Linked DNA regions of Homo sapiens. The main gene of each other region encodes a partner of the protein of the gene in region 2 in a complex. Each region holds a gene or a part of one and is shown on either strand. Other genes may lie near its edges.

The links. Proteins that work in one complex are often made in the same cells at the same time.
Region 1: the proteins of RAB14 (region 2) and RAB11FIP1 are in contact, whole or in part, in a crystal structure (PDB 4D0G), measured with the Homo sapiens proteins. Residues at the interface, in NP_057406.2 of Homo sapiens: Leu28, His29, Ile44, Gly45, Val46, Glu47, Phe48, Gly49, Trp65, Arg72, Arg74, Ala75, Val76, Ser79, Tyr80; in NP_001002814.2 of Homo sapiens: Glu1252, Ile1255, Asp1256, Asn1257, Leu1259, Val1260, Met1263, Pro1267, Asn1268, Leu1270, Arg1271, Ile1272.

What each region holds. Positions count from the first base shown.
Region 1 is NC_000008.11:37,896,497-37,904,230, reverse strand, and holds the start of RAB11FIP1 (rab11 family-interacting protein 1), read left to right. Parts: upstream 1-4,733; 5' UTR 4,734-4,789; coding exon 4,790-5,160; intron 5,161-7,734. UniProt on the Homo sapiens protein: A Rab11 effector protein involved in the endosomal recycling process. Also involved in controlling membrane trafficking along the phagocytic pathway and in phagocytosis. Interaction with RAB14 may function in the process of neurite formation.
Region 2 is NC_000009.12:121,198,867-121,206,721, forward strand, and holds the start of RAB14 (ras-related protein Rab-14), read right to left. Parts: upstream 3,004-7,855; 5' UTR 2,773-3,003; intron 2,735-2,772; exon of another isoform or gene 2,617-2,734; intron 1-2,616.

The DNA of each region.
Region 1 (7,734 bases), on a different chromosome or scaffold from region 2:
GTCTCACCTGTCCAGTCTAACCTGCCAGGCTTGTCCATGTGCTCAGGGTTGATTGAAACTCTTCCTCTTTCAGTCCAAGCTGGAGGCAGGGCAGGATGGGAGGAAGGAGCAGCCTTCCTGTTCTGCCGCACCCTGGCTGCGGGAGGTATTTACAAACACTCCTGGAACTCAGTGACCCTGCGCGGGTTCAGCCGGCCAGCATAGCCTGGCCTTTGGGAGTGGGGAGGAGCGGCCACGGTGGAGTCTTCCCAGGGCCAGTGGGGAGCCAGGGGCCTGCAGGGTGCCTGCCTTGTCACTGCCCTTGTTGTTGTCCCTGTGCATCCCCCAGCCTGGATTCTGGGTCTGGAAAATTGGGAGAAGACAGAGGGTGACTCCTGGGCAGAGTCATGGGAACAACGTGCTCTGGGCTGGTGGAGGGGAAAAAACAGCCACCAAACAGCTGGAGGCAGCAAGGCACACCTGGTGCTGGGGCTCCGGCCTCTTCCTTCTCTGAAAAATTTCCAGTTCCTGCCTTGGGAAGCCCCCACTCCTTTGAGCTAACCCCTGCCAGTGGTCAGTGTCTGATGAGAGTGGTCTGGATTTCTCCTGGGTGGTGAGGCAGCTGTGCCTGCCTCCAAACTACCACATCTGCTTTCACCAAAGTCTATTTGTGTCTCACAGAAACTCAAACACATGAGGTCACAGGTACTTCCCCACCCTCTTTGTCCTCTAATCCTTTCCATGGGTGGAAGATATGCTTTGTTTCATACTCAGCTGGGGAGGCTGTCCAGCTAGGTTTTATGCCTTGTTTTCTTTATTGGGGGAGCAGCACTAAAAATGTGAGTGTTGGAGAGGAGGGGGAACTAGAGCTGAAAAACTTCCTCCCAGGCTGAGTTGTTTGTTTGTTTGTTTGTTTTTAAAGACAGGGTCCCACTCTGTTGCTGAGGCTGGAGTGCAGTGGTGCAATCATAGCTCACTGCAGCCTCGAACTCCTGGGCTCCAGCAATCCTCCCACCTCAGCCTCCCTAGTAGCTGGGACTACAGGTGGACGCCACCACACTCAGCTAATTTTTGAAGTTTGTTTTATAGAGACAGAATCTCAGTATGTTGCCCAGGCTGGTCTTGAACTCCTGGGCTCAAGTGATCCTCTAGCCTTGGCCTCTCGAAGTGTTGGGATTACAGGTGTGAGACGCTGTGCCCCACCTCCCCAGGTCAGTTTTGAACTGAAATCTATGACTTTGTCCAGCTGGCGTGTAGTAGAACATTGGACAGGTAGGATAATCAAGAGGAAAGTGTATACCCTCTTATTTAATTCAGTACCAACTTAGAAGAGACTCCAAGATGGGGAAGAGGTAGGCAGATTGGGGCAGAAGGCAGACAATCCCCAGGTGAAAATGAATGAAGGCATCTAGCTGTGACCTGCCTGCCAAGCTGTTGGCTGCTGGACTCCTTCTTCTCATACCTCCCTTGCAATTTGAGAACAGCCTAAGCAGGTCACTGCTCAAAGTTCTCTGAAGGCTGGCTCCCCTGGTCTCAGCCTGGTGTTCTCTGAAGGCTGGCTCCTTAGCCTGGTGTTCATGGTCTGAGCGCAGCCTGTCTTATTTCTGTCTTATTTCTACCACTCATTCTCAGTGGCCTCCTAAAGCATCCTACATTCCAGCCACAATGGGGTATGTGAAACCTGGAAACGCCACGACTCTCTGGTCCCCATATCTTTGCGTAGGCTGTTCTCCTCTTCTCTCCTGAAATGCTCTTCTCATATGTCTCCTCCTGTTTCTGTCAAATCTGATATATCCTTCAGGGCCCAGCTGAGCCCCTCCTACTTCACAAAAATCCACCAACTTACAGAAATCGCTCTCTCCTCAAAACACCCAAAGCATCACAGTAATCAGGACTTCCTTTAGATGATGCTGGAGTGCCTTGGAACTGAGTCTCATTCAGCTTTGTGCACTTGGTAGCACCCGGCACATGCCTGGCACAAAGTAAATGCTCAACAAATCGTAACAGGGTCTCGGTCTATTGCCCAGGCTGGAGTGCAGTGACATAATCATAGCTCACTGTAGCTTCAAACTCCTGGGCTCCAGTAATCCACTCACCTTAGCCTCCTGAGTAGCTGGGACTATAGGTGCGCACTACCATGCCTGGCTAATTATTGGTTTTATTTTTTATCTTTTTGTAGTAACGAGATCTTGCTGTGTTGCCCAGGCTGGTCTTGAAGTCCTGGCTTCAAGTGATCCTCCCACCTCAGCCTCCCAAAGCACTGGGGTTACAGGTATGAGTCACTGCATCTGGCCTCAAGAAGCCTTTATGGAAATTAACTGAGTCATAATGTTGAATGAGTATAATGGATCATCCAGAAGGGAAAATGGCACCAAAACAACACAGTTCTGTTAGGCTTTCTTGCCCCTTCTATGCCTGCTGGCTTCTTTCCCCCACTCCTCCCATCATCGTTACATATTTCCAACATGGCCAGGTGCAGTGGCTCACACCTGTAATCCCAGCACCTTGGGAGGCCGAGGTGGGCAGATCACTTGAGGTCAGGAGTTCAAGACCAGCCTGGCCAACATGGTGAAACCCCATTTCTACTAAAAATACAAAAATTAGCGGGCATGGTGTCGTACATCTGTAATCCTAGCTACTTGGGAGGCTGAGGTACAAGAATCGCTTGAACTTGGGAGGCAGAGGTTGCAGTGAGCTAAGATTGCGCCATTGCACTCCAGCCTGGGAGACAGAGCAAGACTCTGTCTCCAAAAAGAAAAAAAAAAAAGAAAAAAAATATTTCCAACATACTAAACAGGCCTTTCTCACACTGCAGCTGCCCTCAGTTGCAAACCTGAGGCATACCTCTGTCTTCTAATTTCCTACGTGGTAAAAGGAAACACTTGGTCCTCATGGTTGGCCAACTTAACCTGCAAACTCTTGAGTTCAGTAGCACTTCCCGGGTACCTACTGTGCACCCAGGTTTGTGCTGGAGGCTGTGAAGGAGACAAGTTGAATAAGTCACTACCTGGTCCCTGCCCTCAGCAGGGCATAGGAAGTCAAACCTTGGAGAAATATGAGTGAACCCTTGCAGTGGGAGGTTGGCAAAGACAGTCAAGGGTACAACGTAAAGGCCTGGAAGTAAAAAGTGTCTGGGCTACAGGTTTGTTTGTTCGGGAGATAGAGGAGAATGAGGTAGGGTGGGGTCAAAATGGAGTACCTTGAAATCTCTGTTCAGTCCGAAGGTAACGCGGTTGCTGGTGAGGCAGCCAGCAGGTTAGTGAAGCAATGTGCAGTGTGAACCAGAGGGAGGAGAGCCTGGAGATTGGAGGGACACGAGTAGCCATCCAAGATTGGGGTTCTGTGGATCTGGAAGAATCAAGAGATGCACTGAACAGCTGTTTGGGAGTCAGGACACTGGGATCCCAGTCCCAGCTCTGCAGAGGGACCTTGGACATGTCACTCCTCTCTTCTGAGTCTTTCCTTAACTGTAAAACTTTAAAACCTTCCAAGTGACCTTTCCAATCTGATGACTCGTTAAACAGTTGAGCCTTTGAACTAGGACCTGTGAAATGAAGGGAAGCAGCCGATCTATTAGGCATTTGGAACAAGAAAGGGACTGCCTGGGAGCCCAGGGATAGAGGCAGGGAGAGACTAAAGAGGGCCTGGCAAGGGAGAAATGGGGAACTGCGGGCTGGGGGCCTGCCACTGTCCCGATGTTTGATTTGGCAATCCCATTTTCAGTTCCTCCTTTCTTCCCTTTTTCTAACTCAGCCTCGCCTTATCTGGTGGGGGGAGGGCAAAATAGGACACTCCCACATTGAACTCATGCTCCCCAGGATACCTTCCCCTTTTCCGGCCCTCACAAGGTCCTCACCTTCCTCTGCAGCTGCCTTCCTCCAGAGCAAGGCTTTCCAGCGGGAGAAGTAGAAAGCACAGTGAATTGGGTGGGCATCTTCCTTAGCACCCTCATAGTTACCAACTTTATTTTTTTGAGACAGGGTCTTGCTCTGTTGCCCAGGCTGGGAGTGCAGTGGCACGATCTCGGCTCACTGCACCTCGACCTCCTGGGCTCCAGAGATCCTCCAGACTCAGCCTCCCAAGTAGCGGGGACCACAGGCGCTTGCCACCACTCCTATCTAATTATTTTTAATTTTTTTTGTAGAGACGGGGATCTGGCTATGTTGCCCAGGCTGGTCTCGAACTCCTGGGCTCAGGAGATCCTCCTGTCTCAGCCTCCCAACGTGCTGGTCATGGTTATTTACTGAGAACTCACCATGAGCCAGGCACTGGGCCAAGAACTGTAATGCATTATTATTATTATTTTTTACAGCAATCCTAGGAGGTGATTGTCAGGTGAAGAAATTGAGACTTGATGTTAGGTAATCCGCGCAAGGCCACGACTGGCGATGTGACCCTGGAAATGAGGTCTGACTTCCAAGTCAGTGCTTCGGCCAGCTCCTTCCCGCCGTGCGACCTTTGGCAGCTGGGGACCCCATCCGTCACCTACCACCTCTCAGATTAGATTCTCGATGCGCCCGCCCCTGCGCACGTGATCCCCTGCCTGCCTGGCCGCGCCAGCCCCGCCTCCGGCGCCCGGGTGCCCGGAGCTGCCCGCGCTGCTGAGGCCGGCGGGGCGGGGCGGGGCGGGGCGGGGCGCGGCGCAGCAGGTGGAGCAGGCGGCTCGGGCAGGGGCGTGGCCTTGGCCATGAGGGGCGTGGCCTGGCGGGGGTGTGGCCGGAAGCCTTAAAGTGGCCTGGTCGCCGGGGCGGGCCGTGGAGGCCGCCAGTCGCGGCGATCTTCTCCTCGCTTCTGGAGTGTTATCGTCACCATGTCCCTAATGGTCTCGGCTGGCCGGGGCCTGGGGGCCGTGTGGTCCCCAACCCACGTGCAGGTGACGGTGCTGCAGGCGCGGGGCCTGCGGGCCAAGGGCCCCGGGGGCACGAGCGACGCGTACGCGGTGATCCAGGTGGGCAAGGAGAAGTACGCCACCTCCGTGTCGGAGCGCAGCCTGGGCGCGCCCGTGTGGCGCGAGGAGGCCACCTTCGAGCTGCCATCGCTGCTGTCCTCCGGACCCGCGGCCGCCGCCACCCTGCAGCTCACCGTGCTGCACCGCGCGCTGCTCGGCCTCGACAAGTTCCTGGGCCGCGCCGAGGTGGACCTGCGGGATCTGCACCGCGACCAGGGCCGCAGGAAGACGCAGTGAGTGCGGGCGGGGAGGGGAGGGCCCGGCCTGGGGGCGCGGACCCCTCCGGCAGGGCGGTCTGGGCGCTGGACCCTTCGAGAGTAAGCCGGGCAGCAGCGGGGAAGGCCTTTCGGGACGGAGCCCTCGGCCGGTGCTGGTGTTCTCACCTGGCTTCCCCTTCTGCGGCTGTCCCGCCCAGCTCTGCCAGCTTTGGGTCTTCTTGGAAGAAGGGGCCGTATCTGGGGCGCTTTTTTTTTTTTTTTTTTTAGACAGAGTCTCTGTCGCCCGGGCTGGAGTGCAATGGCAATGGCACGATCTCAGCTCACTGCAAACTTCGCCTCGCAGGTTCACGTGATTCTCCTGCCTCAGCCTCCCGAGTAGCTGGGATTACAGGCGCGCACCACCACGCCCGGCTAATTTTTTTTTTTTTTTTTTTGAGACTGAGTCTCACTCTGTCGCCAGGCTGCAGTGCAGTGGCACGATCTCGGCTCACTGCAACCTCCGCCTCCTGGGTTCAAGCGATTCTCCTGCCTGAGCCTCCCGAGTAGCTGGGACTACAGGCGTGCGCCACCACGCCCGGCTAATTTTTGTATTTTTAGTAGAGACGGGGTTTCATCAGATTGGCCAGGATGGTCTTGAACTATTGACCTCGTGATCCACCCACCTCGGCCTCCCAAAGTGCTGGGATTACACGCGTGAGCCACCGCGCCCGGCCCGCCCGGCTAATTTTTGTATTTTTAGTAGAGACGGGGTTTCACCGTGTTGGCCAGGCTGGTCTCGAATTTCTGACTTCAGGTGATCCGCCCACCTCGGCCTCCCAAAGTATTGGGATTACAGGCGTGAGCCACCGCGCCGGGCCTGGGGCGCTTTTGAATCTGCAGGACGCCCCTCAGCGTCTGGCACACAGTAAGCACTAAGTGAATTTTAGATGAATTCCAACTATACGTGGGCAGGTGCCTTCTTCTTACTAGGGTGGTAGCCCGTGTCTGATACTCGCCTTCGCTTGGGTGGAAGGCCTCCTGGGTATTTCACTGAATAGAAGAACACTTCGAGCCGAGAATGACTGGGCCAGGGCGCAGGGCAGAGGAACAGGAGGCATGAAACCAGCTGACACCCCCACCCTAAAGGCTAACCCCGGGCGCAACGCCTTTACAATGCGGGGTGGGTGGAGGTTGGGGGAGGGGAATGGCGTTTGCCGGCTGTCACATGACTTGCTAACCCCTTCCCCTACCTCATACTTGCCTAGGGGGTTGGTGAAGAGAATTTGCCCCTACAGAAAGAATGTTACAACAGTGTGGTGTGTGCCCTGGGCCCCATGTTAGTAAAGATTTCTCCAGGTTGGAAGGAGCCCGGGTGGGCCCTTGACGGAGCAGAACTGGGCATTGTTTCCTTTTGGAGTTGGTAGAGTTCTTCTCTCTGGTCCTAATCCTGGTGGATGTCTGCTCGCCTGTAGCTCCCAAAGATTGTGTCAGGTTATTTCACTTCTGCAGTAAAAACTGGGCAAAAACCATTCACTCCATGATATTACCGAATTATTTGTTTCACAGGTGTTCGGAAAGGGCAGTGCTTCACCCAAAGGAACGTTCGATTATGTTCATCTAGTATGCCAAAGCTAGCCTCGATTAGCTTAGCTGGTTACTTTGTTAGATCTTAAATACACAGGCCAGTCAGTTAGCACCGAAAGCCTATAGTCTAGGAATCACACTGATTTGCTTTGTGTGTTTTAGATATACATAGCCTTTTAACTTTCCCTTCTGTGGGAGACAGGAAAAGCCAGAGGGTTTGTCCTCTGGAGGCTCCCTTTACTGTGGGGTGGGTTCCATTTCAGCATGTAGGCTTGCAAATGGAATATTTGATGATGCAAACTTACCTGGCCAGAGATGAATAGGCATTTCTGAACTCACATCAGATAAAACTAGCCTTGATGTGAGGATGGATGGGGTATCTCACAGCATCAATTTACAAGCCATAAGGTGAGCAGTGTTTTTGCTAAGGAGGGGCTGCAGCAATGCTGATCTTCCATCTGATTAAATGACACTGGGGGTGGTGGGTTGGCTTCCCTTCAGCTTCAAATGGGTGCTGTTGGCCATCCGTTGTCTTGCGCCATCCCAACATGTGTGTATTCACTTCCTTCTCTGCCACCTGTTTCTTATGTGGACATTTTATCCCCTTGAGAGGTAGATCACATCTCCCTGCCAGAGATGGAGATTCCAGAGTCCTGGGTCCAGTGCCCACAGCAGCCCTGACTCATTGTTGGGCTTCTCTGTCCCTAAACACCCAAGTTTCTCTATTTGTAAATAGAGCATGTTGCCAGACTTAATTGATGTTTGTAAGATGTTTCTGGGTTCCTGGATTAATGGGGCCAATGTATCCAAGAAGTGATTGAAAAGGTTGGCAACTGCTTTGTGAGAGATTGAAACCTTGAGCTCTCTTTTTTTCAGGAAGAGTTCAGTCTCTGCATCTTCATTTTTCTTATTTTATCCAATGTAACCCTAAACCTATACAATAACTCCCACCTATTATGTGAACCGATTACCACCTAGTCACAGTATTGACTTCCAGGAAAATGGTGCTTAGTTGATTTTTTTTTC
Region 2 (7,855 bases):
AATCTAATAATCTAATCTAATAAAAATGAGTGGTCAATTTCCTCAACAGTAGTACAAGTAGCCCACCCACTTAAAAAAAAAACCTTACTTTTGACAATATACTTAATGTCACTTTTATATAAATAATGTGAATCATTTTTAAAAGCTGGATTGCTTAATGTGGCAAAAGTAACTTTGATGGTCTTCTATATACAGGAAATAAAGTATTCTAATACTGGACCTCTGTTTACAGAAAGAAAGCACTTAACAACCAAAAAGCCAAAAAAAACCCCTGCACTTACTGCTCAAGTTAAAAGGATTAATAGTGAAAATTTTACTACCGATATTGTGTCTGAGATTTGCTTCAAAATAATTTGGCAAGGAGGAGGCAAGTGTATATTGATGAAGCAAGACTGATCACTGTTGACACTGGCTGATAGGTATATGAATGCTCAGTATGCTACCTGATTTTGTATATATTTAAAATTGTCTAGAATAAGAAGCTTTTTAAAAGTCAAGTACAGTACCTCTAATACTTCTATTTGTCAAACTGTTGTCTTTAGCCATGCCTGGCATTTTTTACCACATAAAAATGTTTCAAGCCTCTTTTAAAAAACATGAAACATCTCTCAATAGCCCAAGTTTTCACATTTTATTTACCTTAATCAAGTTTCCTCCACTAGCACAATATCTTACTGTGACTATGCAAAGATATTTGATATTGATAAAAATGAACACTCCAAATTCTGTTGCAAAGTTGAAGTATGCAACAATGATAAAGTTTAACTGTAATACAAAAAAAGCAACAACTTTTTAAGATGTAGCTTTAATTTCAAGGGATTTTTTAATAGCTATTATAATCTAAGGTTTTACGTCTTTACAATAACTGCCATTTATTGAGGGCCTAACACATGCCAGCTACTTTATAAACAGTCTCTAATCCTAAAAACTCATTTTTCAGATAAGGAAACCGAAGTGATCTACCCGTGGTCATACTACTACTAAATGGAGAGCTAGAATTAAGGCCCAGGTTTAACTCTACATGTAGCTCTCCAAAGCTATACTCCTCTCTCATTCATTCAAAAGATATTAAACACCCACTATGTGCCTGGCACTGTTACAGGCACTGATTTACTATATGCCAAGCAATGTGCTAAGGGCTTTCTTTAAACCCCATTTAATCCTAGCAACAACTCTAAGATGCAGGTCCAATTATCCCCTTTATAGATAAGGACACTGAGTCCGAAAGGTTAAGTAACTTGCTTAAGATCACTTAACTAGGAAGTGGCAGTACTGGAGGGAGAACCCTTGACAGTATGACTCCAAAACTCTTAACCACGACATACCTCTAGGCATGATCAAATAAAACTGCCTAAACAGAACTTGGAAGAAAAAATTTGGAAAGGCTTGGGGGAATAAAGGGGTAGGAGCTGGATTACTGCAAGGTCAAGTTTGTCTTCAACAATCAAATCTAAATAAAAGGCAGTTGTTCCTCTACAATATTTACCTTAGAAAAATAAAAGAATTTTTTAAAGGCAGTTGGGATAGTAACGAAATGAGCAGTAAACTTTGCAAGAGTTCAAATCTGGGCTCTGACACTTGCTGTGGGGTCACCAGGAAGGCACCTGTCCTCTTGGAACCCGTTTCTTCTTCATATATGAAACTGAAATCCTGGCATCTCTCCTTTGGGGTTTGTAAGCATGAGGATTTGCCAGTGTAGTGGTTGACTTTATGGACTTTAGGTCATAAAAGGGTAATCAGCTGTCATCCAATGCGAACACAGTAAAAAAGGAATAAAGTTGTAACTACATTATAAATGGTCATGTCTGTAACCCTAGCCTAATTTTTGAATGTAGTACAGAAACCACCAGCCACAGTGTGAGCCGAAGCCAGTTTGTAATGTACCATCAACAGCCAGACACACATCACAACTTTAGGCCTCAGTTTCCTCACTTATGAAGTGGAGACAACTTATCTCCGAGGGCTACGCGGGGCAAGATAAATAGGTACAAAAATACATAAATATGTACCTGGCCCACAGTTAAAACGCTTAAAACACTCCAGCTCTGTCGTCTTCTCTTAGATTCTAGAAATGCCACAACTTTCTCTTATTTCTAGATGCTCTGTAGGTTCAGGGCCGTAGAGGCTGTCCACGGGCCTCACAGGAACGCACCAAAACCAGGACATCGCAAGCACAGGCGCACAGACCCAGACCCCGGCCCCGGCCCGGCCCGGCTGCAGGGCCGGGCTCCCCACATCGACAAGGACACCGGAGCTGCCCCGAGACGCCAAGAGGGCTGCGAAGAGCTGCCTTTGTACTCAGAGCCAGACGCGGCCTACGGGACGGGACCGCCACGTCTGGGGCTTGCGGGCTGCAGGGCGGCGCGGCACGCGTGGGTACACCCTGCGGGGGCGGGCTGCGGCCGCGGGGAACAGCGGCGAGAGGGGGGCCCGCGGGAGATGCGGTCCTGCCCAGCCGCGCCGAGAAGGCGGGGAAGGCGAGGCCGGAACACACCCTTCCCTGCACGCCTCGGAGCGCCCCGCCGGTTGGGGAGGGCAGGAGGCTCAGGCCGGAGCCGCGCAGGGGACACCTCCGCCCCCGCCCAGGAGTCCTGTCAGGCCGGCGCCGCGGCGCTCACCGCCGACCCACGGGCTAGCCACGGCCTGACGGGGCCTGGCCCCGGGGCGCCGCCCGCCTGCGGCCCAGTCTCCACCGTCCCCACACACGCCCCTCTGAAGAACCCGGCGCGAGGAGGTATCAGCCGGCCGGACACTACGGAAGGCCCGGGTTACCTGGGGGGTTGCTGGTGGCTGGGCAGCTTTCCGGGCGGGAGGGGGGCGTCAGGACCAGGAACAGGAGTGCGGACGCAGCGGGAGAGGGGGCGGGGGCGGTCGACCGAGGCGCCGGCAGGTACACTGGCAGGCCGAGAGGTGCAGACGCGCCGGCAGCAGTAGCGGCAGTAGCAGTGGCAGCGGTGACTGCTCCTGTGCTCCCTCAGTATCTTCCTCGGGCTGGTCCAAGATGGCGGCGCTCCCTGCACAGGGTTTCCTGTCACCCTCGCAATGGGCCGGACCACAAAAGAAGGGGGAGAAGATGCGCGCGCAGCTGGCGGAGCCCGGAAGAGGGTGGCTGAGGCCAGCCCGCTAGCCACGCCCCTTCCTCAGCCCTCACCTCTGGACTTGTCGCGCCGCCGCTGAGGCCCGCCCCACGGGCGCTCGCGCCCGGAGGGAAGGTGGAAAGCGCGTATGCGCAAGCGCAGTCGCGTGTCCTCGCCTCTTGGGGGAGCTACTGCGCAGGTCTGCGTGGAACCTGGTGGGGTGCGCCTGCGTCTTGGAGAACTAGGGTTGTCGCTCGTGGAGACTTTTGAACAATTTTTAAAGCCAACATTTACCACTTATTGGACGCTTACCGTATACTGGCCACCATGCTAAGCATGCATTTACTGCATTCATTCAACGTGTATTTATGGGGGCATTTACTGTATATACCGCTGTATGCTTCGTATATACCGGTCCTGTCCAACAAACGTCGGAGGCACGCATCCCCATTGTATCCATGGAGAAACTGAGGCTCAGGTTGGTCAACTCTCTTGTCCAAGATCACGCAGCTAGGAAGTGACCCTGCATTTCATCTCTATTTTGACTTCACTTTGGGGTTGCCTTTGACAGGGTGAGAGAAATGTGATATTTTTCACAATTTGTCTACCACCTGCCATCTTCCAACTTGCTCTGCCATAATCACTGCCCCAGAAGGTTTCGTGCTTTTCGGGTGCAGGGACACGTTTTGACTTTCTTGGACCCTGAGCACTTTTGCCTTGTGGCTTGTACATTACACACACACATATATTTCACACACATGTAAGTTAAATATATGTATAAATATTTAACATATTTTACAACTGCATTGATATAAACATGACGTATCAATATTATATAACAAAATATTTTCTCTGACCTGAAAGTTCATTTTTTTCTTCTGACTTTAAAAGAATGTAAGCCGGCCGGGCGCGGTGGCTCACGCCTGTAATCCCAGCACTTTGGGAGGCCACGACGGGCGGATCACGAGGTCAGGAGATCGAGACCATCTTGGCTAACACGGTGAAACCCCGTCTCTACTAAAAATACAAAAAAATTAGCCGGGCGTGGTGGCGGGCGCCTGTAGTCCCAGCTACTCGGGAGGCTGAGGCAAGAGAACGGCGTGAACCCGGGAGGCGGAGCTTGCAGTGAGCCGAGATCGCGCCACTGCGCTCCAGCCTGGGCAACAGAGCGAGACTGTCTCAAAAAAAAAAAAAAAAGGAACGTAAGCAAGGAGGGCTGGTAGTCTGCGCCTGTAATCCTAGCTACTGGGGAGGCTGAGGAGAGAGGATCGCTTGAGCCCAGGAGTTCTGGGCTGTAGTGCACTGTGTCACTAGATAGAGTGTCTGCACTTAAGTTCAGGAGGGAGGGACCACCCAGGTTGCCTAAGGAGGGATGAACCGGCCCAGGTCGGAGATGGAGCAGGTCAAAACTCCCGTGCTGATCAGTAATGGGATCATACCTGTGAACAGCCACTGCACTCCAGCCTGGGCAACATGGGGAGACCCTGTCTCTAAAATAAATAAATATTCATTTTTGTTGGCCCCTAAAAGTATTGGAGGCCCTAAGCCCTGTGCATACTGTACTGTGCCTAATGGATAAGGTGGCCCTGCCTTAGTTCCCCACCCCCAAATTAAATCAATCTTTCTCTTAGCGTTCAGGACCTTTTATGAACTGGTTCTGCCATGAACAAGTGAGATTTCACTGTAAAAGTGTGTGCCAGTTTGTACATCTCATATTTTCAGAGACCTGGGTTCGAATTCCTGCTCTATAATCTAATGGTATGCAGTTGTGCATGTCACTTGATTTCTGAGATTGTCAGTCTTTTCTGCAATATGAAAATAGTAATATCTCTCTCAAATAGGTCTTTGTGAAAATTAAATGGGATAGTATATGCAAAATATCTGGTATATAATAAGAAATGGAAATGATTATTACATGATAATCTAATCTAAGGTGATATTGAAATCCTTTTGCAACCCTAGAGGTCTAGGCTTCTATTTCCACATTCTTTAATAAGTATAGTTTGTTGTCACACTTTAACATTTTTGAAACTAAGAAATTTGCCTGTGCCAAGTAAAGGAGAAAACTGTGAACCAATGATCATTAATTGCCCAGGTATGAACTTAGACCTGGCTAGTAAGTTTCCTTATAGCCATTATCACCTGAAGGGAGATCTTTATGTATAGCTGATGTTTATTCAACACTTACTATGTACCAGCAACTGTCCTAAGAATCATGCATATTTTCTCATTTAATCCTTACCACATCCGCATGAAGTCAGTACTATATTTACCCCATTTTATGAATGAAAAAACTGAGTGTCATACAGATCTAAAGTCGTTTAGGTGAAAATTGGGTGGGACTTAAATCTGGCAACATGTGACCTCAGGGCTGTACTAAGCCCTATTCCATTTCCTCCCTTATTTGCTCTTGTTTCACAATAGCCAGCTTAAATGCAGGTCCCTAACTGCTGCTTTCCTATGTGAAAGACATTACACTTTGATGCAGCTTTGAACAGAAACACTCTTGTGGATGCAGAGTGCCTATCACATGCTAAGGAATGCAATTAAAAAACAGTAGGAATGGTCAATTCTTTTAATAAGTCCCAGAATTTTCAAAGTGAGGAGAGTGTATGTGACCAGTTGCAGCATAATTAAGAGGGACTGTCCATTGGGTGCCAAACATCCATTGGGGTTTCTACTTAACTTTTTTAAAAAGTTGTTTCTATAAGAAGAGATGTATACATGGAATAGTCACTGCAGCACTGTTTGTAATAACAAAAAACTAGAGACAAACTAAATGTCTATCACTAGAAAGCTGTAATAGTAAATTATAGTACATCTATATTGTGAAATACTATGCAGCCATCAAAAAGAATGAGGCCCATGTATATGTCCTGATATGGAACAATGTCTAGGAAATACTTGGAGGGAAAAAAGCAAGGTGCAGAAAACTAAATAGTATGCCAACATTTGTTAAACTATAAGAGGAGGGCAAAGAAGACATGTATGTTTATGTAACTAGACATTGAGAGGGGTTTATTCCATGTATACATCTCTTCCTATTGTCCTGGATCTGTTGCTGAAGCCCAAACTTGAAAATAAAAAGCCCACAAGGAGCTCACATTCTACACTGAAAAAACTGCCAGTGGCTGGGGCCAGCTACCTTCTAGCAGGGAATTTGAAGAGCAGTTGTTGAAGAAGTCAGCTCTTGACCAACTTCTACCTCCACTCCACTACTCCCTCACCTATTCCCCATTTCCAACCCCATCCCCACAGACACACCATCACCAGTAATCTGTGGAAAGAAAGATTGGAGACATGGGAGGGAAGTCAGCCTTTAGGGAAATTGTAATGTCATGGAAAGAGACGCCTTCTTTCTGTCCCCTCATGGAGACTGTGTCCTCATCTAGAACCAAAGGAGAGGGGCTCCAAAAGAATCACCAGTGAGGATTGGGTGTGCCTGCAGGAAGATGGGACTGACAACTCCCTGGATATCTATCTGTTTGGGCAGCACTGATCTGCTCTGCCCTATTGCTTCCTGCACAAAGGAGAACACAGATGGAGAGAGACAGCACTGGAGGGGCTTTGGATGGTGTGGGGAGAACCTTAGATGAAGAGGGGCTGAAGTTGCTTCCCCTTATCCCTTCCTCCCACCTTGACTTTCTAGTCCCAGATTGGAGTACGGCAAAGAAGTGTCCATCAGAGAGGAGTGTGGCATAATGACACAAGCTAACCATCTGCTGGAAGATATAGCAAATGTGTGAGGGGTCACCTGTTCCTGGGAAGATGCCTGGAATCCTCCAGGTGTGCAGGTTGTTTGTCACCTGCTCTGGCTTCATTTCTGCTTGTATTTTTATAAATTGTTTTGTAAAAAGTAGATGTTATTTTATCCTTCATCTCTTCCCAGAGCCTAAACAATTAAAGTCATTTTCAGATCTCTCTGTTGTGTTTATTTAAACAAAATTAATTCATCTCCTCATTATAGGCTTAATTTTATTTGTTCATTTTCCTCTTATGCTTGTGAATTTTGGTTCATAGGCTTATCTTGAATTGGAGATTCCCCCCTACCCCTATGCTTGAATCTTTTTTGTTTAGTGGTTTTGGAGTTGCCACCGAGCCACACTCAGACTTTAAAATACTGGTGTCCCAATTCCTGAAGCAGTATTGAAGATTTAGAAGAACTAATACAATTTGTACTCTAAATTTTATTACCACATGTGTGTTCTACCTAATTTAAAAAACGAATATATTTTAATGTAGTTGATTAACTTCCAGTGATACATAATTTAATTAAAAAGAAATGGTCAAAAAAGCTAGTTTAACCAAAAAAAGTTGAGATCAGGTGCGGTCATGGTGGTATGGCTGTCGACATTAACCAAAACAGAAACAGCAATTAATATACTTCAAAATTTAGTAGGTTGACAAAGAAATCAAAATCAAGGGCATGAGACTCATTCGTCTCTGGGTATGAAAAAGGATTAGATTCAACTTATCACACTAAAAAAAGGTGATGCATAAATGTAACAATAAGTACATTCTGTATTCAATTGTAAAAGAAATTGTGTGTCCATTGAAATAGTGCCCTTTCATCTCCCCATACACCTTATACCACCCCCTCCCAAAAAATATCCTCTCGTGTCACAGCTTATGAGGGCATGACATTAATGAGGTAAAAAGCAAGCTTGAAATTTTCCCAGGAAAGCACCCTACCGGAGACTCATTTATTGTCATTGAAGCATTCCTTTGGCTGACGACCAGAAGTTGGTGGTTTCGACTTAAGAGGCCATGTTACATGA